Linked DNA regions of Homo sapiens: region 2 is linked to region 1. A link means that fine-mapping ties the variant in region 1 to the plasma level of a protein whose gene starts in the linked region. Region 1 holds a variant in brackets. A gene starts in the other region. All regions are shown on their reverse strands.

Region 1 (8,000 bases):
ATAAAGAAACGTCTGCTCTGTGTGCAGAATGCCTGCCACTCTTTCCTTTTATCTTCCATTGTGAATTTGCAAGAAAATTATCTTGAGATCTTCATTTTCCGTCATGTCCCTTCCAGTGCAATCAGTGAAACCTAAGAATAGCCCAACCCCTTGAAAGATGAAGTGCAAAAGAACAACAGAATCAGAAGAATAAAAGAGGACCATATTTATCAGGCAATTAACCATTTAAGTCATCATGAGCTGTAAAATAAAAAAGGCTGCTTTATTGCACAGAAGCCTATACACATAACAAAAATAAATGCCTTCTAAGCTATGAGACTTTTTTTTTAAATAAATGTTACATATACAAACATGCCATGTAACCATGGTGTTTGGTACATATCCAGGATGTGGCTTTTTACATCCTTTTCTTCAGTCAGAGCCGTTATGGTCCAGCTAATTCATTCCATTTCACTTCAAAATTGTTCTATTCTCACTTTTAAAAATAGGATTTTTCCCTCCATAAAATATGTAGCTTAAGGTTATTAACCACCTACACAGTCTCAAATCCTCCTTACTTCCTTAGGGCATAGATCCTAACTCTTTCTTCTCTTGTCCTCTCGCCTCCCCTCCCCTCCTTTCCTCTGAGACAGGGTCTCCTAACTCTTCTCTTGTATGTTACTCTTCTTTTGTATGTCTTCTCTTCTCTTCTCTTCTCTTCTCTTCTCTCTTTCTCTTCTCCTCTCTTCTCTTTTCTTTTCTGAGACAGGGTCTCACTCTGTTGCCCAGGCTAGAGTACTGTGGCTCAATCATGGCTCACTGCAGCCTCCAACTCCTGAGTTCAAGTGATCCTTCTGCCTCAGCCTCGCAAGTAGCTGGGACTAAAGGCATGTGCCACCATGCCTGGCTAATTTTTCTTTTTAACTTTGTTGTAGAGATGAGTTCTCACTATGTTGCCTAGGCTGGCCTCGAACTCTTGGCTTCAAGCTATCCTCCTGCCTCTGCCTCCCAAATTGTTGGGATTACATACAGCCATGAGCCATTGTGCCTGGCTTCTACTTTGAACAATCAGAAAATAGGCCGGGTGTAATGACTCATACCTGTAATCCCAGCACTTTGGGAGGCCAAGGCAGGCAGATCACTGAAGCTCAGGAGTTCAAGACCAGCCTGGACAACATGGAGAAACTCCGTCTCTACAAAAAAAATACAAAAATTAGCCAGGCGCAATGGTGCGCCTGTGGTCCCAGTTACTTGGGAGGCTGAGGCAGGAGAATCGCTTGAGCCTGGGAGGCGGAGGTTGTAGTGAGCCAAGATTGTACCACTGCACTCCAGCCTGGGCGACAGAGCAAGGCCCTGTCTCTAAATAAATAAATAAATAAATGAAAAGACAATAGTATATTACAGTTTCATTTTAACAGAGGTACTGATTATAGACTTGTTTGCCTGAATAGGTGGCTGGCACCAGAGGGTCTCTGGTTAATCTATTCACACAGCTGTGGCAATAGAGAATGCCAAAGCCAATAAGTGAGTCTACACACAGGGTTATTTACTAGCCACAGCTGCCTTCTAGCCCTGGTCACAAAGGATTTTGGTAGGAGTGTCAAATAGACCTGGGACAAGTTTATCATCACATCTAGAAAACCAACTTCAAATGATGGATCCCCTTCATACTAAAAAATGCAAAATTTGAAAATATTTTATCTACTTAGAAAATGTTTATACACATAGTCATCAGACCTGATATTTATAGTTTTTAAAAACCCCAATAAAACAAAAAGAAAAATCAACATCAAACATACACCCTTCCTCTCATCTGATTTATCAGATTTATGACAGAAACCACTGTATTTTCTAAGGATATATCTGTAGGGTTAGTAAGTGGTCTTTGCTTACTACACCTTCTGAAATTCAAAGCACACAGGGCAAAATAAGTGTTACCTTTCTTTATATATTCCCCCCATTTGGAATACGTCTACCTTTAAAGTTTTTTTAAATGGGCCGAGCGCAGTGGCTCAAGCCTGTAATCCCAGCACTTTGGGAGGCCGAGGCGGGCGGATCACCTGAGGTCAGAAGTTCAAGACCAGCCTGGCCAACATGGCGAAACCCCGTCTTTACTAAAAATACAAAAATTAGCCAGACATGGCGGCAGCTGCCTGTAATCCCAGCTACTCAGGATGCTAAGTCAGGAGAATCACTTGAACGCAGGAGGCAGAGGTTGCAGAGAGCAGAAATCACATCACTGCACTCCAGCCTGGGTGACAGAGGGAAATTCCATTACAAAAAAAAAAAGTAAAACTAGGCCGGGCCCAGTGGCTCATGCCTGTAATCCCAGCACTTTGGGAGGCCGAGGTGGGTGGATCACTTGAGGTCAGGAGTTTGTGACCAGCCTGGCCAACATGGTGAAACCCTGTCTCTACTAAAAGTACAAAAATTAGCCAGTTGTGGTGGTGCACGCCTGTATTCCTAGCTACTGGGGAGGCTGAGGCAGGAGAATAGCTTGGACCTGGGAGGCAGGAGTTGCAGTGAGCCAAGATTGCGCCACTGCACTCCAGCCTGGGTGACAGAGCGAGACTCCATCTCAAAAAATACATTAAAATTTTAAATAAATAAATAACAGAGCTGTTTAAATGATTCTCAACCTGGGCTTCAAGTTAAAGTCCCCAGGGAACTTTAAAATACTGATGCTTGGTCCCCACCCCCAGGAATTCTGATTGAATTGTCCCTAGATAATTTTAATGTCCAGTCAGGGCTGAGAACCCTTACTCTAAGTCTTCTCAGCCTTCTCAATCAAGCCTTTGCCTCCTATCACATCATGTATCCTTTTCTCTTCTAAACACCTGCCACTTTTGAAGCCAGTATATTCTACATTACCTGTTCTCCCAAATGGATCATAAAGCCCTTCAGAGCTGAAGTCACCTTTTATTCATCATCTTCTTTTAATCTCCCACAGTGTCTCCATAGTGCCAAATCGTAAGAGAGCAATACTAGCCAATATATACAAAGGACCCATTATATAATTCTATATTCCCTACTAGGGACAGCATTATTATGCCAATTTTACAAATGAAGAAACTGAAGTCTTCAGAGAGATTAAGTGGCTTGTCACAAATTACATGACTAATAAATGACAACTGTACCTCATCCCAGATTCACCTGACTCCAAGCTCTTCACTCTTGCAAAACAGCAGCAACAACAAAGACGTGTAAATGATTAGGTTCTAAATAACTTGACTTCAATTAAATGCTTTTTAAAATTAAACAATCATTTGTATCAGCAAGTGGGCCATTGAAATGGTGGTTGTAAAAATAAAGGTAAGAGAAACGAAGGTCAGAACGCACTTGGTCTTATTTTTCAATTAGCCAAAATAATGCAACGAAAACCTACGGCTTCTCATTTTAAGGAAAGTTTTCTAAAACAGCTTTAGGTTGAGAGTCTTTAGATGATAAACTACTCCTTTGCCTTCCTAGAAATGAATCTTACCGACATGTTCCATTATCTTTCCATGAAAAGAAATTTT[T/CT]TTTTAAAGGTAAAAGGAAATCACCACATAAGTTGATGATTTCTTTTGGGGAACCTTCATTCGGGACGATGACTCAAGGGGAAGAACAGCCACTTCATTCTGACATTACAACACGATACCAGGTAAACATTATGGAGATGGATTTCCTAAGCAGACTATTCATCTAAAAAAAAAAAAAGAAAAGAAAGAAAAGAAAAAAAAAAGAATTCAATCCTCTGGGCTTCCACATGCCTCCGTTCTCCAGGTAGAAGGAACAAGAGCCATATACTGAAGTTGAAGTCAAGAGATGGGAAAAGAGATTCAGAAAAGTAAAGCGGAATAACTGGGAGTAATATATTCTAAAGGATATTCACATGCAAATAGAACCAAGACTAAATGATGACAGGTAGGAACATGTGATTCTTGCATAATTTAACAATTTTACTTATTGTTGCTGGTTTCTTGATATCTTAGAAAATGGACAGCTAAGCCACATGTTAACGTCACTACCCGGCTAAGGTAGTAATTCATCAAAATTCACTTTCATCAAAACTTACTGAGGAGGCAGCAAACTTACCAAACGAATGCTTACAGATATTAAGCATTATTTTCCTTTGTAACTTTACATAAAATAATTTCTCCTGAAAGAAAATTTAAGGCTGTGGCATTAAAGTAAAAGCTGGTGGCCGGGCATGGTGGCTCATGCTCGTAATCCCAGCACTTTGGGAGGCCTAGGCGGGCGGATCACCTGAGGTCAGGAGTTAGAGACCAGCCCTACCAACATGGAGAAACCCCGTCTCTACTCAAAATACAAAATTAGCCAGATGTGATGGTGCATGCCTGTAATCCCAGCTACTCGGGAGGCTGAGGCAGGAGAATTGCTTGAACTACAGGAGAATTGCTTGAACTAGGAGGCAGAGGTTGCGATGAGCCGAGATGGTGCCATTGCACTCCAGCCTGCGTGACAAGAGCTAAACTCCATCTCAAAAAAAAAAAAAAAAGAGTAAAAGCTGGTATGGAGAGAAAGGGTTAAAGCCTGTTAGCTAAACTTCCTTAACGTCTCTTAGGAGTGATGTCCACACTACTTCCCAAGACAACTACTGCAGAAAGCTGCAGCCTTCATTTACTTTTTAAAAAAGCAAAGCACTAAACCCTCTACCTTGTTTAAAATTTAAAAGTGTATCCAATCTATTTTAAACTAAATTTTGCATGTTTTGGAATACAACTTCAGTCAATTTAAAAAAATTTTTTTGATTTTTCAATTAAATATATATTAGCACAAATTAAACCAATAAGCATATCTAATTTATCTTGGTGTAAAGCTTATCTAATATACCTGAAAATGGACACAATATGCACTTGACATGCCTTTATTATACTCTGCAATTCTGAAACACAGGAAAAGTACAAATAAAAAGGCCAGTCTAGCAAGCCACTGAAGTCATAAGTAGATTTTCTGAAAAAATGGCATGGAAAGTTACCTCCTGCAGTAAAAGATGCTATAGGTTTTTCGTACTACTATTTCATTAATGACGCAACACACAAATTATCCTTCTGAAATAACCAGAAATCACTCCAGTAAAACATACCTTTGAAAGATTCACAGTTACACGGCGCGTAAATTGTTACAGGAGACAAAATGGCGGTTACCGGAAACTGAGCGGAAGGTTACAAAATTTCTAAGGCAGAAGTGGTTTCGAAGTAATAAGTAGAAACAAAAAGTAACCTAACCTCTTCAAGATAAGCAGCAGAACCAGCAAGAGTGCTGCTGTGCTGTGTGAGGAAGTGAGTACAGGAGGGCTGGAGCTCTCTCACAGAGGAAGTGAATATTCACTGCTGGTTTTACAAACCATCTCATTTGTCAGATTTATCTCACTTGGCACACATCTGGCATTTAGTGCTCAAATAATATAACACATATAGGCACACTCAACAATTGGCATTGATATAAAAATGTAGGCAATCTTCAATTTAAGAGGAAATGTGTTTTAAAAATGAAGGTTTAGGGCCAGGTGCAGTGGCTCACTGTAATCCCAGCACTTTGGGAGGCTGAGGCAGGAGGATCGCTTGAGCCCAGGAGTTCAAGACCAGCCTGGGCAACATAGCGAGACCCCTGTCTCTACAAAAAGTACAAAAATTAGCCAGGTGTGGTGGCATGCGCCTGTAGTCCCGGCTACTTGGGAGGATGAGGTGGGAGGAGAATCATCTGATCCTGGGAGGTTGAGGTTGCAGTGAGCTGAGATCACACCTCTGTACTCCAGGCTGGGTGACAGACTGACACCCTGTCTCAAAAAAAGAAGGTTTGTACATACTGTAACAGGATATGAAGCTCCAGATAGAGCAAAATTATGGTGACAGAAGTGAGTCAGAGATTGCGTGAGTTGGAGGGTGTGGCCTGGGGAGAGGAGATTGTAAAAGCGCGCTGGGGAACGCTTTAGGATAAAAGAAGTGTTCTATATCTTGACTGAGGAAAGGTTAAGTGACTCTAAGTTGCCCAAGTTCACCAAATTGTACACCTAAAATGTGTGAATTTTATTATATGTAAATTATACTAGCAAGAAAATTATTTTACAAAAAGGAGGTCTGTAACTTGGCATTTCAGATTTTGGAATATGCTTTTCCAAAAAAATGCATACTACAAATGGTGGTAAGTTTTTGGGCTAGCCCTTCTCCCCCAAATATGAACCATAATTTGGATGAGACTGAGTCACCTGGAAGCCCACCTAGTCTAGAGACATCAAAACCACAGCTCCCAGAGGTTCTATTATGTACCCTAAGTACCGGTTGGCAGAGAGAGAGAGGGATATTGTCTGATGTCCAGACACAGTCACAGAGTTAGGATCTGGTGACTGGAGAATGTGAGGTGATGGTAGGAAGATCTAAGGAACAGGAGGCAAACACATACCCTGGGCACTTTTGCACTTGACCAATCGCTAAGTAAACCTGGAACTCATACTTACTAGTTGAAGAGAGGGGAAGCCAGAGGTACTTATGCTCTGTCGATGGTACTGGCCAAGGTTTGGTGGGAGAGTAAACTGTTTCCTTATTTCCGCTGAAGAATACCTTGGATTAAAATAGAAAAATCTAAATGAAATGATTATTTTAGGAAATCATCACAATTTTAGATGCAATCTTTGATATCATGTTATAAAACGTAGGCCTTGGCTGGGCAATGAGCAGAACTGACTAAGATACCTTTTCAGTGGCCTGTTAGTGGACATCGTAGTTTTTGTCAGATAATACATACCCTTGAGAAGTTCACAGAGGCCATGATGCCTGCAGTCAGGTCCTGCCCAATACTGGAAGGATGATGACAGAAGGAGGACTTTGAGGCCCAAGAAAAAGATCCAGGGCATTTGACTCCTTCTCCCCCAGCCATTCAGAGTTTTCTCTATGTGAGGATGTCTGGTATCTGACTAGAATCCTTTAAATCCTGAGCTGCCATTTTGATCCAGCCATTCTCATTTCAAGCAGCTGAACCCTTTTGGCTGACTGGTTGCTACAACAGAGAACACCAGAGAACTGTTGTATGAATACTTCTACCTCCCTGTAGGCACCTTCGATGCTACAGGAATTCCCAATGATTGTATTTTTTCCCAACTGCTCCTAGTTCAGTGATCCTTTGCATCACCCATGTGGACAATGCTCAGCCAACACTTTAGGGAGCCATACACATGAGAGGAAATTGTTCCCCACTGTCTACTCACACCTGCTGGCATGTGACTGCTGGCCAGTGATACCCCAGCTTACAAAAAGGTTGACTTCTGAGCACTTATCTGTTAGCCATTTGTTTGGAACTCAGAGCACGTTTTCTCATTACATCATTGTGTTGGTGGTTGGATTCTCAGGCTAGTTCACAAAAGTGTATTTAAACCACAATGAGGCCAAAACATACAATACCAATACCACTACTGAATATAATTAGAAACTAACAGAGATTACTGAGGATCAAATGAGGTCACATATTTTAAACATGCTTTGTATCCAACAAGGGTATATATAAATTTTTAAACATTGTAACTTTAGATGTAATACTTAAATATTACAAATGAAGCGTATTATGTTTTCTCTGTGAAAACGTGTGCTAGGGCATACTTATTAACTACCCAGCATGATGAGGTTTCCTACATGGTTTGCTTTGCTCCCGACCTTGGCAATGAGTTACACCTAGAAAGGCAGGAAACTGGGCTCTTGTCCCAACTTTGGCATCTATTCTCCCTCAGGAGCACCCCAGTTTCCTTTCAAGATGCCAACACTCATGCTGTGCACTGTCTAGGCAGAAACACAAATCAAAAGAGTGGGCACATAACTCACGGCAGGACAAGTGTCTCTCTTTCCCAGGATTCTGAATGACAAATGGAGAGAAGATTGGAAGAATAAGACTGGAGCACCTTCATCCTAGTGGTGGCCCGTTACATGATGAGGCAAGGAAGTGTGAAACCCCAGAGGAAGCTGTAGCTGCAAGCATACATTTTGCTCCTTAATTTTCTACAGCGTTTTCTTTATTTAATTTTTTAAAAGTAT
Region 2 (15,998 bases), not on the chromosome of region 1:
TGGGTTCAAGTGATTCTCCCACCTCAGCCTCCCAAGTAGCTAGGACTACAGGTCCTTGCCACCACACCCATCTAATTTTTGTATTTTTAGTAGAGAAGGGGTTTTGCCATGTTGACCAGGCTGGTCTCGAACTCCTGACCTCAGGTGATCTGCCTGCCTTGGCCTCCCAAAGTGCTGGGATTACAGGCATGAACCACTGAGCCCAGCCTCCACTCTAGCATTTTTATTTTCTCTTTTCTTTTTTTAGAGATGGGGTCTCATTCTGTTGCCCAGGCTGAAATGCAGTGGTGCAATCATAGCTCACTGCAGCCTTGACCTCCTGGGCTCAAGCCATTCTTCTGCCTCAGCCTCCTGAGTAGTTGGGAATACAGGCATGTGCCACCACACCCGGCATGTGCCTATAATTTTTAAATTTTAAATTTTTAAATTTTCTATAGAGATAGTGTCTCACTATGTTGCTCATGGTGATCTCGAACTCCGGGCCTCCCACCTCAGCCTCTAGCATTTTTTTTTTTTTTGTAGAGACGGAGTCTCGCTCTGTTGCCCAAGCTGAAGTGCAGTGGCACGATTTCAGTTCACTGCAACCTCCGCCTCTCCAGTTCAAGCAATTCTCCTTCCTCAGCCTCCCGAGTAGCTGGGACTATGGGTGCACACCGCCACACCTGGCTAATTTCTTTTGTATTTTAGTAGAGACGGGGTTTCACCATGTTGCCCAGGCTGGTCCCGAACTCCTGGGCTCAGGCAATCCACCTGCCTTGGCCTCCCAAAGTGCTAGGATTACAGGTGTGAGCTAGTTGAAATGCTTAGCCTAGCATTTTCAACTTATCACATAATTCTTTTCCAAAATGGCCACCCTGTTTTTGAAAAAAAAGCTTCTACTTGCTTCCTGCCGCTTCCTGCCTCTCTCTCTTAAGCAGCAGAGTTGGTTACATGACCAATCTGAGGCTGACCACATTACTGTTCCTTCCCACAGCCAGTCTATCCAGCACCTCCCTGGGATCTCGCTTTTCTCTCTATTACATTACTGACATGCTCTCTCTAGAGGCACTTGGCCTCTCAGTGGCTAAATCCCAGGGCGTCTTCTGCCCCCTCATTCTCCTGAGCCTGTTAGCGCTTTAATTCTGAAGACACTGATAAGTAATTTATGGTCATTCTAGAAAAATTATGAAACATTGGCAAGCAAAAAATTAATTTTAAAATCATTGGAAATCCCACCATCTACTATTAACATCTTGCTAGATATTCTTCACTGTTGGCTAAACAAACAAATACACATAAATTGTATATTTTTTATTTTTTAGAGATAGGGTCTCAGTGTCACCCAGGCTGGAGTGCAGTGGTGATCACAGCTCACTGCAGCCTTCAACTCCTGGCCTCAAGCAATCCTCCTGTCTCAGCCTCCTGAGTAGTTGGGATTACAGATGTCAGCCACCATGATGGGCAAGTTGTGTATTTTTAAACAAAAAATGGGATGGGGCCAGGTGTGGTGGCTCACACCTGTAATCCCAGCACTTTAGGAGTCTGAGGTGGGAGGATTGCTTAAAGCCATGAGTTCAATATAAGCTTGGGCAACATAGCAAGACCCTGTCTCTAAAAAAAAAAAAAACAAAAAAAACAAAAAAAACAAAAACTTATCTGGGCGTAGTGGCGCATTCCTGTAGTCCTAGCTGCTTGGGAGGTTGAGGCGGGAGGATCTCTTGAGCCCTGGAGTTGAAAGCTGCAGCAAGCTACGATTGTGTCACTGCACTCCAGCTTGGGAAGCAGTGGAGACCATGTCTCAAAAAAGTAATAATAAAAATAAAAAGAGGCTGGGTGCGGTGGCTCACACCTGTAATCCCAGCACTTTGGGAGGCCAAGGTGTGCAGATCACCTGAGGTCAGGAGTTTGAGACCAGCCTGGCCAACATGGTAAAACTCCGTCTCTACTAAAAATACAAAAATTAGCCGGGCATGGTGGTGGGCGCTGTAATCCCATCTTGGCAGGCTGAGGCAGGAGAATCACTTGAACCTGGGAGGCAGAGGTTGCAGTGAGCCGAGATCGCGCCATTGCACTCCAGCCTGGGAGACAGAGCAAGACTCTATCTTGAAAATAAAATAAAAATAAAAATAAAAATAAATGGTACTATGTAAACCATTTCATAAAAGTCTTTTTCACCTAAAAATATGGCATGACTATCTTTTCCATGTCAGTAGTAAATGTATCTTACATTGTCACACCATCAATTAACCCTACCACCCACCCCATTTGGAACTTCCTTCTCATGTGGCTTCTGGGACAGTGTTAGAGGGGTGCACGGCCTGTCTTAGAGGCACCTCTTCATCCCCTGTCTACCACAGGGCCTACTTCTCAGAGTTGCTTTTCAGTCTCTACTTCTGTTTGTTCAACCATGTTCCCAGGTAGAATCTAATTGCCAGCTAGACGTTTCCAATTGAGTGTGGTTTTTGTTTTGTTTTGTTTTGAGACAGAGTCTCTCTCCGTTGCCCAGGCTGGAATGTTGTGGCACGATCTCGGCTCACCGCAACCTCTGCCTCCCAGGCTCAAGCAATTCTCGTGCCTCAGACTCCCGAGTAGCTGGGACTAAAAGCACCCACCACCACACCTGGCTAATTTTTTATTTTTTCTAGAGACAGGGTTTCACCATGTTGTCCAGGCTGATCTCATGCTCCTGGGCTCACGTGATCCACCCACCTTGGTCTCCCAAAGTGCTGGGATTACAGGTGTGAGATATCTTTCTTCCAGAGCCACCTCTGTCTTATACCCCTCTCTTCTACATCTAATCAGTTTTGAGGCCCTATTCATTTTCTTCCCAAATAGCTCCTGTATCCATTCCTTCCCATTCTCGCTGCAGCACCAGGCGCTTGTCTCAAGTGCTGTCATCACTCAACAGCCTCCTGGCGGGCTCCCCTCCTTGGCCTCCTCTGCACAAGGCTCCTGACACATTCTCAGTCACCTCTTGGGGGTTGCCTTCTCCTATTCCAGAACCTGCAGTGACTCTTCCCCAAATCTACACCTCTCTAAGCTTGTGCCCACCTGTACCACCTCATACCTCAGTGATTCCCAAGATGCCTTCTGTGCTTTAGTGAGACCCGTCTTGTCACTGTCCCAGGTATGTGCAAGTTTCGTGCCTATCCCCCTCCTCATCACACAGAATGCCTTCTCTATCCCTACCTAAGTCTTATGTAACCCACGATGCCCTGCTCACATCTTTTTTCTTTTTCTTTGAGACGGAGTCTCGCTCTGTGGCCCAGGCTGGAGTAGGGTGGCACGATCTCAGCTCACTGCAACCTCAGCCTCCCAGGTTCAAGAGAATCTCCTGCCTCAACCTCCTGAGTAGCTGGGATTGCAGGCATGTGCCACCACAGCCAGCTAATTTTTTATATTTTTGGTAGAGACGGGGTTTCACCATGTTGCCCAGGCTGGTCTAGAACTCCTGACCTCAAGTGATCTGTCCACCTCGGCCTCCCAAAGTGTCGGGATTACAGGCGTGAGGCTCTGCACCTGGCCCCTGCTCACATCTTACCTCTTCTAGAAGTCTCTAGCCTGCCCAGGTCACCCACCCTACCCCTTCACTAAATTCCTATTGCATTTACAGTGTGCACTGCACAGAATGGACCTCGTAGTGCCAACCCTGGGTAAGACATGGGGTAGTACCACTGGCATTACATACTGAGTGGCTTAACTTCCCAAAGGAACAGAAATTGGATTCTGTGGAATCTGGAGAAGTGGACAGATCTGGGGGTTAGGGAATTGGAGGAAAGGGGTTGGGATGAGAGTTGCTGGGAAATAGTCTCACCTGTGTGGGTTCCCCTCGGTCCATTTTGTCCCCTGTTCCTAGCTGCCCGTATCTGTTATTTCCTTGCATGAAGATTCGGCCAAATTCATCCACCAGGCCAAGGTGGTTGTAGCCAAGAGCACAGAATAGGATCTAGCGTGCAAGATAGAAAGGGGATAGGGATTCCATTCCCTCCAGAGGAACTCTGAGTTCCAGAGTCTCCAAGCCACTAACCTGCCATCCCCAGCTGATCTCTTTCTATATATATATTTTAGAGATGGGATCTCACTATGTTGCCCAGGCTGGTCTAGAGCTCCTGGGCTCAAGCGATACTCCCTCCTCAGCCTCCCTCCGCACCGAGCCCCCAGCTGATCTCTTTTGGCATACCTCTCCCTGGGGATCCCCTGCCCCTCTGGATCAATAATCTGATTCCTATAATACTTCAGACCTTCCAATCCCTACAGCGCCACCCCTCTGGTTTGCCCCGTCCCTCCAGGAGCCTACCTTGGCAGGCAGTGAGAGAGCAAGCGGCATCTGCTGGTCCAGGGGGTCAAAGGCTTGAAGGGTCCCAAAGAGATCGCGATACACCCCTGGGGTATGCACCTCAAAATACACTCCCCCCTGGTCTGGGGGGTCAGGAGCCCTCAGCTCAGCAGCTTTGGGCACCCATTTCCTAGGGATAAGGCCCCACCTGGGATGAAAGCTACAAGATCCAAGGAGTCTCATACCCACTAGGAATGCATCAACTATGATGCCTGGGAACTGAAAACACATCTTTTGAGACCGAGTCTCCCTCGGTCACCCAGGCTGGAGCGAAGTGGCACGATCTCAGTTCACTGCAACCTCTACCTCCTGGTTCAAGTGATTCTCCTGTCTCGGCCTCTGGTGTAGCTGGGATTACAGGCGCCTGCCATCACACCCAGCTAATTTTTGTATTTTAGTAGAGATGGGGTTTCGCCATGTTGGCCAGGCTGGTCTTGAACTCCTGACCTCAGGTGATTCACCTGCCTCGGTTTCCCAAAGTGATGGGATTACAGGCATGAGTCACCATGCCGGCCCTAAACACATCTTTTCACTAGGATGCCCTCAGGGGTTCACCATGCAGCTGGAGTAAGGGTGAAGGGTGTTGATGTTTAGAGGGTCTAACCAAGGCTGCGGGCTTGAGCCGGGGGGAGGTGGTCCATACCTGTGACGTAGAGGGTGCTGCTCTGGTTGGAAGTCATGCAGGCCACGCGCAGGTGAGGCAGGTAGTGGGACACCTTCCTCAGGGCCAGCTGAACCGTGTAGGAGCGTGGCTGGTCAAGCTGGGTCTCATTCACTACCAAAGAGTAGATCTTTCCTTCCTCTGGGGGTAGGGGAAGCAATTAGTTGGGGAGGGGATTCTCCAATATCCACATAAACATCCCAAGAGACTCCCTAGGCCATATGGGTGACACATTTACTGCCCTAGAGTGGGGCTGAGAAAGAAATAAGGGAAGAGTGACCCCAAGTCCCCCAGACTCCAGTTCCCACCATAAATCAGGGAAGTACTTCAGCATGAGAGATGAGCAGAGAGAAAAATCTAGCAGATTTGTTAGAATCCGATTTGAGTGAGAGGTCTGGGGATTGAGGGCCCTGCCTGGCATTCAGAAGTTTAGAGGTGGTCAAGTGTGGTGGCTCACACCTGTAATCCCAGCACTTTGGGAGGCCAAGGCAGGAGGATCACTTGAGGCAGGGAGTTCGAGACCAGCCTGGGCAACATAGCAAGACCCCATCTCTACCTTGCTCCAAAAAAGAAAAAAATATTTTAAGAAAAAGCCTAAAGGGTCTCAGGCCTGGGGATGTGGTTGAGTATAAAGGACATTGGGAAAGTAGGGAGCAGTTTGGAGTATAGTGAGGTGGTTGGCATGGAAGCTGGGGACATCTGATTTTTTTTTTTTTTTTTTTTTTTGGAGATGGAGTCTCACTCTGTCACCCAGGCTGGAGTGCAGTGGCATAATCTCGGCTCACTGAAACCTCCACCTCCTGGGTTCAAGCGATTCTCCTGCCTCAGGCTCCCAAGTAGCTGGGACTACAGGTCCATGCCACCACGTCCGGCTAATTTTTTTTTTTTTTTTTTTTTGAGACGGAGTCTCGCTCTGTCACCAGGCTGGAGTGCAGTGGCGTGATCTCGGCTCACTGCAACCTCTGCCTCCTGGGTTCAAGGGATTCTCCTGCCTCAGCCTCCCAGGTAGCTTAGACTACAGGCACGCGCCACCACGCTTGGCTAATTTTTGTATTTTTTTTTAGTAGAGTCAGGCAGGGTTTCACCATGTTGGTCTCGATCTCTTGACCTCGTGATCCACCCGCCTTGGCCTCCCAAAAACTGGGATTACAGGTGTGAGCCGCCGCACCCGACCTAATTTTTGTATTTTTTAGTAGAGATGGGGTTTCGCCATGTTGGCCAGGCTGGTCTCAAACTCCAGATCTCAGGTGATCTGCTCACCTCGGCCTCCCAAAGTGCTGGGGTTACAGGTGTGAGCCACCACACCTGGACAGGGCCTTTTATTCATATAAAATATTAAGCAGAATCCTAGACTAGGAGACAGAGAAGGGCAGAGCTGTTTAGATGGAGACTAGGATAAGGTGGCATATGGAACCCAGTCTGAGGGGCCTCCCTCCCCCTCCTCTGCAGCAGGGTCTGAGGAATCTGCAGGAAACAGTTTGCAAAAGCCATTGCTTTGGGCCACACCTGTGAGGAGCAGTAGAGCCCGCTGGGTCTCCTGACCAACCAGCACGATCTGCTTGAAGGTCATTGAGTGGTGGAATGTCATCTTGAAGACCCGCTGCCCACTAGACTGCAGATAGACCTCAACACAGTCACAGGCCCGGCTGCTGGTGGTACCCACCACTTCCTGCGGCTCCCGAGTGGCCAAGACGTAGAGGTATTTACGGTAAACTGTGTCACACCTTGGGTCCGAGGCAAACTGGGGGAAAAGATGAGGGCGTCTGGGATCTAGAGTTTCAAAATGGGATGGGGCTGGGGCAGCTGGATCCTGGGGTGGGAAGTGAAATGCTTGGGTCCAGAGTTGGGAAATGAGCCCTTGATTTCAGGTTCCTATGTGGGAGGGCAGAAGTCATAGGAAAGACACCTCAAGACTGATGGGGGCCTGGGTCCTCAAAAGAGAGGTGGTGATATGGTTAGGCTCTGTGCCCCCACCCAAATCTCATCTCGAATTGTAATACCCAGTGGGAGGTGATTGGCTCACGGGGGCAATTTCCCCCATGTTGTTTTCGTGATAGTGGGTTCTCACGAGGTCTGACGGATTTATAAGGCAGTTTTCCCTGCTCTTGCTTGTGTGCTCTCGCCTGCTGCCATGTAAGACGTGCCTCTTTCCCTTCTGCCATGATTGTAAGTTTCCTGAGGCCTCCCCAGTCATGTGGAACTATGAGTCAATTAAACCTCTTTGCCTTATAAATTACCCGGTCTCAGGTATGTCTTTTTTTTTCGAGACGGAGTCTCCCTCTTGTTGCCCAGGCTGGAGTGCAAGGGTGCGATCTCAGCTCACTGCAGCCTCTGCCTCCCAAGTTCAAGCAATTCTCCTGCCTCAGCCTCCCAAGTAGCTGGAATTATAGGCACCCACCACCACACCCAGCTAATTTTTGTATTTTTAGTAGAGACGGGTTTCGCCATTTGGCCAGGCTGGTCTCGAACTCCTGGTCTCAGCTGATCCGCCTGCCTCAGCCTCCCAAAGTGCTAGGATTACAGGTGTAAGCCACTGCACCCGGCCTCTGGTACGTCTTTATAGCAGTGTGAAAATGGACTAATACAGGTGGGCTCTCAGCTGCCAGGGTTCTGCTACTCACATCCTTGGCTCCACGACACAACACAACATAGCGACAGGCCCGCTTCCACTGCATCTGGCCGAGGGTGGAGACCAGGGCATTTTTGAGGAAGAAGAGGGTCCCCACGTAGTCAAGAATGAAGACGTGATCCTTGGTGGGCAAGAAGCGGCGGTAGCCGTGGGCTAGCAAGGGGGCCACGCTCTTGCTGAGACATCGGCGGCGGCCTCCAAATGCCTGGAAATACAGGCCCTTCGTGTCTGGAGGAAGGAAGGAGATGGAAGGTTCAAGGGATGAGATGACACGAGGGAGATGAGTTGGAGCTTGGGTAGATTTCTTAGACACGCTGGTTTGTAGTTCCTCCCCATCCCCAGGACAGGGGAACAAACAGACCCCTTATGAAGGAGATGTGGAAAATAAGCTTAGATTATACTCGACATGTGAACTTTAGTCTCCACCCCACCTCAGCCCAGGGTCAAACATTTGCTTCTTAGTGAGCAGTTCTTTGGTGCAACCTTGCATCAGTGATGTTGAGGAAAACTCTAAGAATAAAGACACAGAGGCTGCGTGCGGCATCCACCCCCCTCACCCTGAGCCCCTCCTCCCATCCTCACAGCTCAGTGAATTTTTGCACGCCTGTAATCCCAGCACTTTGGGAGCCCAGGAGTTTGAGACCAGCCTGGGCAACGTGGCAAAACCCCATCTCTACTAAAAATACAAAAATTATCCGGGTGTGGTGGCGGGAGCCTGTAATCCCAGCTACTCAGGAGGCTGAGGCACGAGAATACTTGAACCCGGGAGGTGGAGGTTGCATTGAGCCAAGATTGCACCACTGTGCTCCAGCCTGGGTGACAGAGCAAGACCCTGTCTCAAAAAAAAAAAAAAAAAAAAAAAATCAAAGAAAAAGAAAGAAAAGAGAAGAGACAGAAACAGGAGTGAAAAGGAATGATTGATGAAGGCCGGTCATCCTCCCTCACCCCTAGCTTTGGATCTGTTTTCTGGGTCCCCCTTCTCTTTTAATCTCCCAGTGAGTGTAAGAAGTACACCCTGGGGGATCCCTGGAGGGGAAGAGGGTTTATGGCATGGTTCTCAGGCTAGGGGTGATTTTGTCCTTCAAGGGCATTGGTTGTCACAATTAAGGGGGATGCTGCTGGCCATCTGGTGGGTGGAGGCCAGGGTTGCTGCTTAAACATCCCACCATGCAGAGGACAGCTCCCCACATCAAGGAATTATTTTGCCCAGAATATCAACAGTGAGTTCAGAAGCCTTGGGTTAGAGGAGGGAAAACTCCAGGTTTGGGGAGTGAGGGATGCCTCTAGGGAAAAAGCGGGAAGTGTCTGTGTACAGAGGGAGACTTGGCAGGGAGGCCGCTAACGGGGGCTGTGGGTGGATTCCGAAGACTTGGAGGAAGTACTCAAGGGAGAATGTTTGAACTGGACCCGTTTCTTCCGGAGAAAGGGGCCCTGGAAGCACTGTTGGGAGTGTGGGGGTCATCAGGGGACTTTAGAGAGCAGGAAGGCTAAGGCGGGACAGAGGCAAGGAGAACGGGAGGTTCTGGGGAAGGTGTACAGTTCAGAATGGCAGCTCTCTTCCAGGGCCGGACTCCAGAACCCTGATCTTGGAGGCGCGGACTGAGTCTGCGACAGATGCGTCTCCACACGCCTTCCCCATCGCACACTTCGTGGAAGTAGCGGCAGGTCTGGCCGAGGGCAACAAGGTCTCTGACTGGGAGGAATGAGATGATATGCTCCACCTGGGAGGGAGGAGGGAAGAAGCGGGGAGTCTTTGGTGGCCCCTCGGTGATCTGGCCCCCAATCCTATTATTCTCAATCCCCCTCCCCAAGGACTCACCAGCTCTGGGGGGAACAACTGGATGGAAATCGGATTTCCTTTCCCCCTCTTCTCTTCAACCCCAAGCTCCGAGCCACAAGAAGGGCAGCTTCTCTTCACCTACCCAAGAAGGGGTGCATAGGGTCCCATGAGGGTCCCACATCCTTTTTTCCCTTCTCTCCGCCTACCTTGGGGCTCATCTGACTCTAGCTGGGCACAGTTATTTCCTCCCCTCTCTCTCCAGACCCATCCCTAACTTCTCCAAATAACTCCTCCCGATCTCCTGCGGCCAATCCCCCTCACCCGGAGCCCCTCCTCCCGTCCACACAGCCTGGTGAATTTTTGCAGCTTCCGTCTCTGGCTTCCCCTGACCATCCTGATTGCCCCCTCCCTGCTCCTGCCCTCCTGTCTCCTAGGCCCTTGGCCCCCCCGTTCCTGCTGGCTTTCCCACACCATGTCCCCAGCCTAGGCTTGGGGGACCTCTGAGGCCCCTCTGCCTCCTAGGCCCCTCCCCCATGGAGTCTGGGGCTAACAAACCTCTCTGTGACCTCACTGTTTGGCCACTGTGACCTGTTCCCTTTAATCTTGCCCAGGACCCATCTCTTAGACAGCTCCTGGGTTCTAGCTCAGTTCTAGCCATCACATGGCTCAAGGGATATGCATTTTACTGGAGAAATAAAGTGTGAATTACTGGTAGGTGACATCTTTATTTCAGGGAGCAGGAGGAAGTTTTCCTATTTGAGGCCCTTTTAGCACTAACTCTGTAGAGAAACACTAGTGAATTCCTCACATTTCAGCAGGCCAAGGCCTCTAGGGATTGGTAGCTCAAGAGTATAGACTCAAAAAACTATAAACTCAGTTTGACAGGTGAGATGGAGAGGTGACTGTGCTAATAATCGTTTAGCTCACAAATGATTCAGCAAACTCTTTAGACTTGTGAAAAAACACATCCAAAAGGAGACTGCAGCCTGGTGCCGGTGGCTAACGCCCGAAATCCCAGCACTTTTGGGTGGCCATGGTGCAAGGATGGCTTGAGGCCATGGGTTTCAAGACCAGCCTGGTCAACATAGACCCTGCGTCTATTAAAAAAAAAAAAAAACTTAAAAATTACCCAGGCGTGGTGATGCACCCCTGTAGTCCCAGCTACACAGGAGGCTGAGGCAGGAGGATTGCTTGAGCCCAGTTTGAGGCAGCAGTGAGCTATGATCGTGCCACTGCACTCCAGCCCGGGCGAGAATGATACCCAGTTTCAAAAAAAACAAACAAAAAAGAAGACTGCTTTTGCTTTCCTGAGGGACAGTAACATCATTGCATGTATAAAGGACAACCTATTAAGGTGGGAGAAAGGGATGGATTTCCTCTGAAAGCTTAGGATTTCTCCCAGGGTCTCTGATATTAGCTTTGTCTTATGTGGGGTGACATTTATCAGGAGAAACAGCAGGGGTCAGGGTTGTGTCTGTCCCACTCAGGCCAGATCTACACCAATAAATCCAAGGAGTGGCTGGCTCTTGCAGGGGCTCAAAGGAGTCCCATCCTGCCAGACCACCAGCCCTCACCACACAGTGTCACAGATCCGTTCATTGACTGCACCAGACTGACCACCCAAATTCCCTTATGTATGGTGCCTAGCCATGGCTAGGCTGGGATGCCTGAGATGGAATTTTAATTCTTCAGCAACTACTCAGGAATATCAACCTCTGAGATGTGAACTAAGGAGAAAGCAACTTCAGTGACTTATTTCTGGGCAACCTACCACATAGGGAGGGGACTGCATTAGGGACTCATGCCACTTAGAAAGGAAGATCTCCAAGTAGACAGAAAGGTATTTTCCATTCCTCTTGCATTTGGGTCCCCTTTATCCACTCCATTTCACCCCAGGAGGCAAACGAGAGGTTGTGAATAGAAAAAGTCCACTGTGGGCCAGGCTTTGTGGCTCACGCTTATAATCCCAGCACTTCGGGAGGCCGAGGTGGGAGCATTGCTTGAGCCCAGGAGTTTGAGATCAGCCTGGGCAACATAGTAGGACCCTGTCTCTACAAAAAATACAATTAGCTGGCATGGTGGTGCGTGCTTGTAGTCCCAGTTACTCGGGAGGCTGAGGTGGGAGGTTGAGGCTGCAGTGAGCTGCGATCAAGCCACTGCACTCCAGCCTGGGCAACAGAGCGACTCTGTCTCAAAAGAAAGAAAAAGTCCACTGTGGGCCGGGTGCGGTGGCTCACGCCTGTGATCCCAGTACTTTGGGAGGCAGAGGCAGGATCGCTTGAGGTCAAAAGTTTGAGACCAGCCTGGGCAACATAGCAAAACCCCATCTCTACAAAAATTGAAAATAAATTAGCCAGGTGCAGTGGTGCCGCCCGTGGTCCCAGCTACTTGGGAGGCTGAGGCAGGAGGATCACTTGAGCCCAGGCATTCAAGGCTGCAGTGAGCCATGACTGCACCACTGCACTCCAGCCTGGGCGACAGAATCAGACCTTCTTAAAAAAAAAAAAAAAAAGGCCGGGCGCGGTGGCTCACGCCTGTAATGCCAGCACTTTGGGAGGCCGAGGAGGGCATATTGCCTGAGCTCCTGAGTTTGCGACCAGCCTGGGCAACACGGTGAAACCCCGTCTCTACTAAAATACAAAAAATTAGCCGGGTGTGGTGGCGGGCGCCTGTAGTCCCAGCTACTCGGGAGGCTGAGGCAGGAGAATTGCTTGAACCCGGACAGTGGAGGTTGCTGTGAGCCGAGATCGCGCCACTGCACTCCAGCCTGGGCGACTGAGCGAGACTCCATCTCAAAAAATAAAAAAATAAAAAGAGGAAGGGAACGGAAGGGAGAGGGAGGGAGGGAGGAAGAGAGGAAGGGAGTGAAAACATCCACTGTGAAAACTGAGGGAGCGGGAAAGGGCTGTGCGTGGAGGATCCAGAGACCTGGTTTCTAGAGCAAGCCAGCTGTCAGGAACTTGCTGTTCGCTCTTGCTAACGCATCAACTTCCCTCTGCCTCAGTTTCTGCATTCGTAGCACCAAGGGCGTGTTCTAGGCGGTGAGATCCTTTCTAAGCCTCTAAAACCCCGTGGTCTGGTCCCCTCTCCATTCCTGTCCAGGGGAGCTCCTCGGGTGAGACGGCAGACCGTGCAACGCTGCACCTACACCCTCCCTCCTCGAGCTGGGCATCTCCAGGCTCTGGGAAGCCCCCCGCCCGCCCCCAGCCCGGGGGTCCCGAGACCCCTGCCAGAGGCTTCACAGTCGGAGGTCCCCCCGCTGCCCCTTCAGCTGCGACAACCGCCAGTGCACTGGCCTCAAGCAGTCGCCCGAATCCCCTCAAGCCCTGGACGCCGGCTAGCCCCCTAACACGTCCAGCTCGCACTCGCCACTGCAGCGGCGAACTGCGTTCCCGGCCGGCCAGGGGCTCCGCGTTCATTCTTAACCTCAGTCTTAAAGTTCTAGCTCACCCGCCTCCTCCTTAGCAAAGGGACCGCCTTCTCGCCCATGCTATTGGTAGGTAGAGCCGTCCCTCAGAGAAGAGGCAGGTCCAGATTCCCTTCGGAGGCTCTAATTGGCCTTCTTGACAGTCACTCGCCTGTATCTGGCTTACGATTGGTCTTTGGGGGACGAGGACTAGGCACCCCCTGCTTGCGGTCCCTCGGCCCGTTTTCCTGCTAGTGGAGTGCCGGTGTCCCCTCCTCTTGGTTGGACCTGATTGGCTCCACCTCCCGATCTGAGCATTGTGATTGGGTGCAGCTGCGCTGGGCGGGACGGCCTGGAGCGTCGGCCGTTGGCGAGCGCTCTATCCTTGTTCCCCTCCCTTCTCTCGTCAGACTCCGGCGCCGGAGCTCCACCCCCACTGACGGGTTCTGATTGGCCGCTTCTGACGCGTCTCGGGGCCACGATTGGTCCGTCCGGTCCCGGACACCGCTCCCTCCCCCTTGAGGCAACTACGGCGGCTCCAAGGAGGGGGTGGGGGAAGGAGGGACGGCCGGTCCCGTCAGTCAGGCAGCGGGAGCCGCCGGGAGCGGATGGCGGCGGCCGTAGCGGCTCCACTCGCCGCCGGGGGTGAGGAGGCGGCAGCCACGACCTCCGTGCCCGGGTCTCCAGGTCTGCCGGGGAGACGCAGTGCAGAGCGGGCCCTAGAGGAGGCCGTGGCCACCGGGACCCTGAACCTGTCTAACCGGCGCTTGAAGCACTTCCCCCGGGGCGCGGCCCGTAGCTACGACCTGTCAGACATCACCCAGGCTGGTGAGTGCAGCCGGGCCCCGGGCCCAACCGGGTCCCTCATTTGCATAGCCCCACCCCGGGCCCCGCCCGGCCCGGGAGTCGGGCCCGCCCCTTCACCTGGCGGCCAGGGTTGCTGCCCCTCCTGATTGCCCTAAACCTGCAGCCATCCTCTCCCATCTTTGAGAACCCCCTAGACAATGAACGTGCTTCTCGTTTGCACAGAACGCCCTGCGCCTCCGAGCGTTGGGAGAGATTCCTCCTTTCTCTTTATTTGCATATCTGCGCACCTGTAGGATGGTCCCGCCCCTCACCTGGTTGGCTTATTTACATGATCTCTTAACCTCAGCTCCAATCGGTCTATGAAGCAGTCCCCACGAGCTCCTCTAATAACTGCTTTCTCTCCCTCTTCATCTACACCTCTTAACCCCCGTCCCACCGAGATCCGAGCAGCCCCGGGCACCCCCTTCCCAGTGACTGGCCCCTAAGCCCGAGGTTTCTGCTTTCTGTGCCGCAACCCCGCCCCCTAAGGTCCTGGCCCTCTCCACTGTCCACGCAGCTCTCCAGCCTATGGGAAAGAAACAAATCTCTACCTCCCCTCACTCTTTTCTCCCTGAGCTCTTCCGCCTATTATCCCCAACCGGCTTATCTGAGATTCCTCCTCCTCCTTCCTAAGCCTGTGAGGTCACTGTGGAGCCTGTGACCTCATAGGGATCTTAGAATTCCCATTTCAGTTTCTGCTTTCCCCCGGGGGAGGGACTTGAGGCCGTTGCTGGAGGGAAGGAAATCTTATCTCCTAGCTGGGAGTGCTGGCCAGCTAGAGACTGTCCTTCCACGCCTCCACCCGCAGGATCTGTCCAACCATGCACCCTCCACCCTGGTGTCTGTGGATGGTAGGGGGTGGGGGACTTAACTGTGACAGGTGAGTCAAGCCTCAGCTACTCAGGAGGCAGCCTATGACCTTGGGCCGGCAGCTGGGGGTGGGGATCAGGATCAGGGAGGAGGACTGCATTCCCGAAGCCTCACCCCAGCCCAGGCCTCTTCCTCCTCTCATCTGCACGGTGGGGGACCAGAGCTGGAGGATAGTGCTTACTTCTCCCTAAGCAGGTGCCTGCTCACCTGGGAACACTCAGGCCGGCACTGGCACACATCCTCTTCCCTCTTCTGGGGAGAACCAGTCGAAACCTCCCCACTGATCTCGCCTGCTCTGCAACACTTGAGATGGGGAATGAGTGAGCTCCAGGAGCCATTCCTGCCCCTTACAGCCCTGTTCCCTCCCACCCCCACCTAACCCCACACTCCAGATTGACCTCAGCAGCTGTGTGACACTCACTGTCTGTTCCCTTCCCCTCCCCCTTGGTTGTTTTTTGACAAAGACCAAATGTTATTCTTTACTTCCTTAGGCTGTCTCTCCCTGTGTGGACTCTTGGGGAAAACTACCCGGAGCTCCCCGGCCCCTCCCAGCTCCCGCCCCCGGCCCCCTCCTCCCCCAGCATTCCGGCTCAGGGTGCAGCCGTGCTCCTGTGAGCTTGGGGGGGGGTCGGAAATCCCAGCTTCCCAAGAACCCTCCTCTGCCCCACTCTCTACACAGGGCCCAGGTTCTAGGCCAAGTGGGGTCCCTCTTGTCCAGAATTCTCTCCTCTGTCCCCTCTCCGCAAGCAGGGACAGAAAGGGGAAGTGACAAAAACATACAGTTGCCCATACCCTGCCCTCCATCTCTCCTCGCCCTCCAAGCAGACGAAAAGCATCAGTGCCTTGCTGCCCGGACTGCCTTGAGCCTTCCCCTCCCGTCTCCCATCTCTTTCTGAGTGTCTTCGCTGCGTGTCGCCTAGTCTTGGGTCCCTGATCTCCCTTGGACTAGGCTCCCTGGGGTGATAGTAGGAAGAATCCTGAGGTGGCGGGGAGGGGCCATCTTGCAAAGGAGAAGTGCAGCTCATTCTCTCCCAGACCACATCCTGTGCCCCCAGTGCCCTGCCTCCTGCCTGAGCTCCCTTCCGCTCCTAGCTTTTGTCCCCGCCACCGCCTACCCCATCAGAACTCTGAGAACTCGGTCTCCACCCCCTTCGTCCACATGCACACACACAAACACATTTGCAGAGAAAGCGGGCAGGTGGAGGCGAGGCTGGGAGGGGCAAATGCCATCCCCCCACCCTCTCCAGAACGGTCATCTCTGAGGCCAGGGCTTCTGTCTGTGCACCAGGGCTGGGCAGAGAGGAAGAGAAAGGGGTCCCGGGGCATCAGGCTGTCATCCACCCTGGTAAACACGGGGCCTACCAGAGCCAGAACCTGACAGATTGTTTCTACTTCATTTCCTGTCACAAGACTCATTTCCTTGGGGGATATACCCGGCTTCTCTCCTCTGCTTGCTTTTGCTGGCCTGCCCTTCCCTGAGAAGGGCCCTTG

Direction of the effects. Alleles are on the strand shown, and positions count from the first base shown. The strength of an association depends on the size of the effect and on how common the allele is.
In carriers of allele CT in region 1, the plasma level of the protein whose gene starts at base 13,371 in region 2 tends to be lower than with T alone (weak association).

Evidence for each region. A credible set is the group of variants that fine-mapping cannot tell apart. PIP is the chance, under the fine-mapping model, that this variant and not a neighbour inherited with it causes the effect. The UK Biobank Pharma Proteomics Project read protein levels with antibody pairs (Olink). The fine-mapping took linkage between variants from a reference panel, not from the people measured, so its PIPs are less certain.
Region 2: LRCH4 starts here. The variant in region 1 is the best candidate, but not a certain one, in a credible set for the plasma level of the LRCH4 protein (UK Biobank, PIP 0.53).

What each region holds. Positions count from the first base shown.
Region 1 is chr9:270,166-278,165 of GRCh38, reverse strand. DOCK8 (dedicator of cytokinesis 8) reads right to left here. Exons shown (of 48, transcript NM_203447.4): 2 at 6,437-6,539. Among named protein-coding and RNA genes, the nearest start is that of DOCK8-AS1, 58 kb to the right of the region's middle. The variant T/CT (reference allele first, on the strand shown) is at 3,498.
Region 2 is chr7:100,583,502-100,599,499 of GRCh38, reverse strand. It overlaps LRCH4 (leucine rich repeats and calponin homology domain containing 4), which reads left to right and starts at 13,371. Exons shown (of 18, transcript NM_002319.5): 1 at 13,371-13,619. The coding sequence starts at 13,400. It overlaps FBXO24 (F-box protein 24), which reads right to left and starts at 13,172. Exons shown (of 10, transcript NM_033506.3): 1 at 12,836-13,172; 2 at 9,425-9,523; 3 at 9,143-9,326; 4 at 7,598-7,833; 5 at 6,483-6,717; 6 at 4,959-5,117; 7 at 4,277-4,398; 8 at 3,794-3,925. The coding sequence starts at 12,874. PCOLCE-AS1 (PCOLCE antisense RNA 1) reads left to right here. Exons shown (of 9, transcript NR_038910.1): 7 at 6,426-6,675; 8 at 9,169-9,270; 9 at 9,418-10,099. RefSeq lists enhancers at 8,742-9,542, 14,035-14,548, 14,549-15,062, 15,328-15,487, 15,460-15,754 and 1 more and silencers at 12,494-12,613, 13,374-13,803, 13,844-13,893.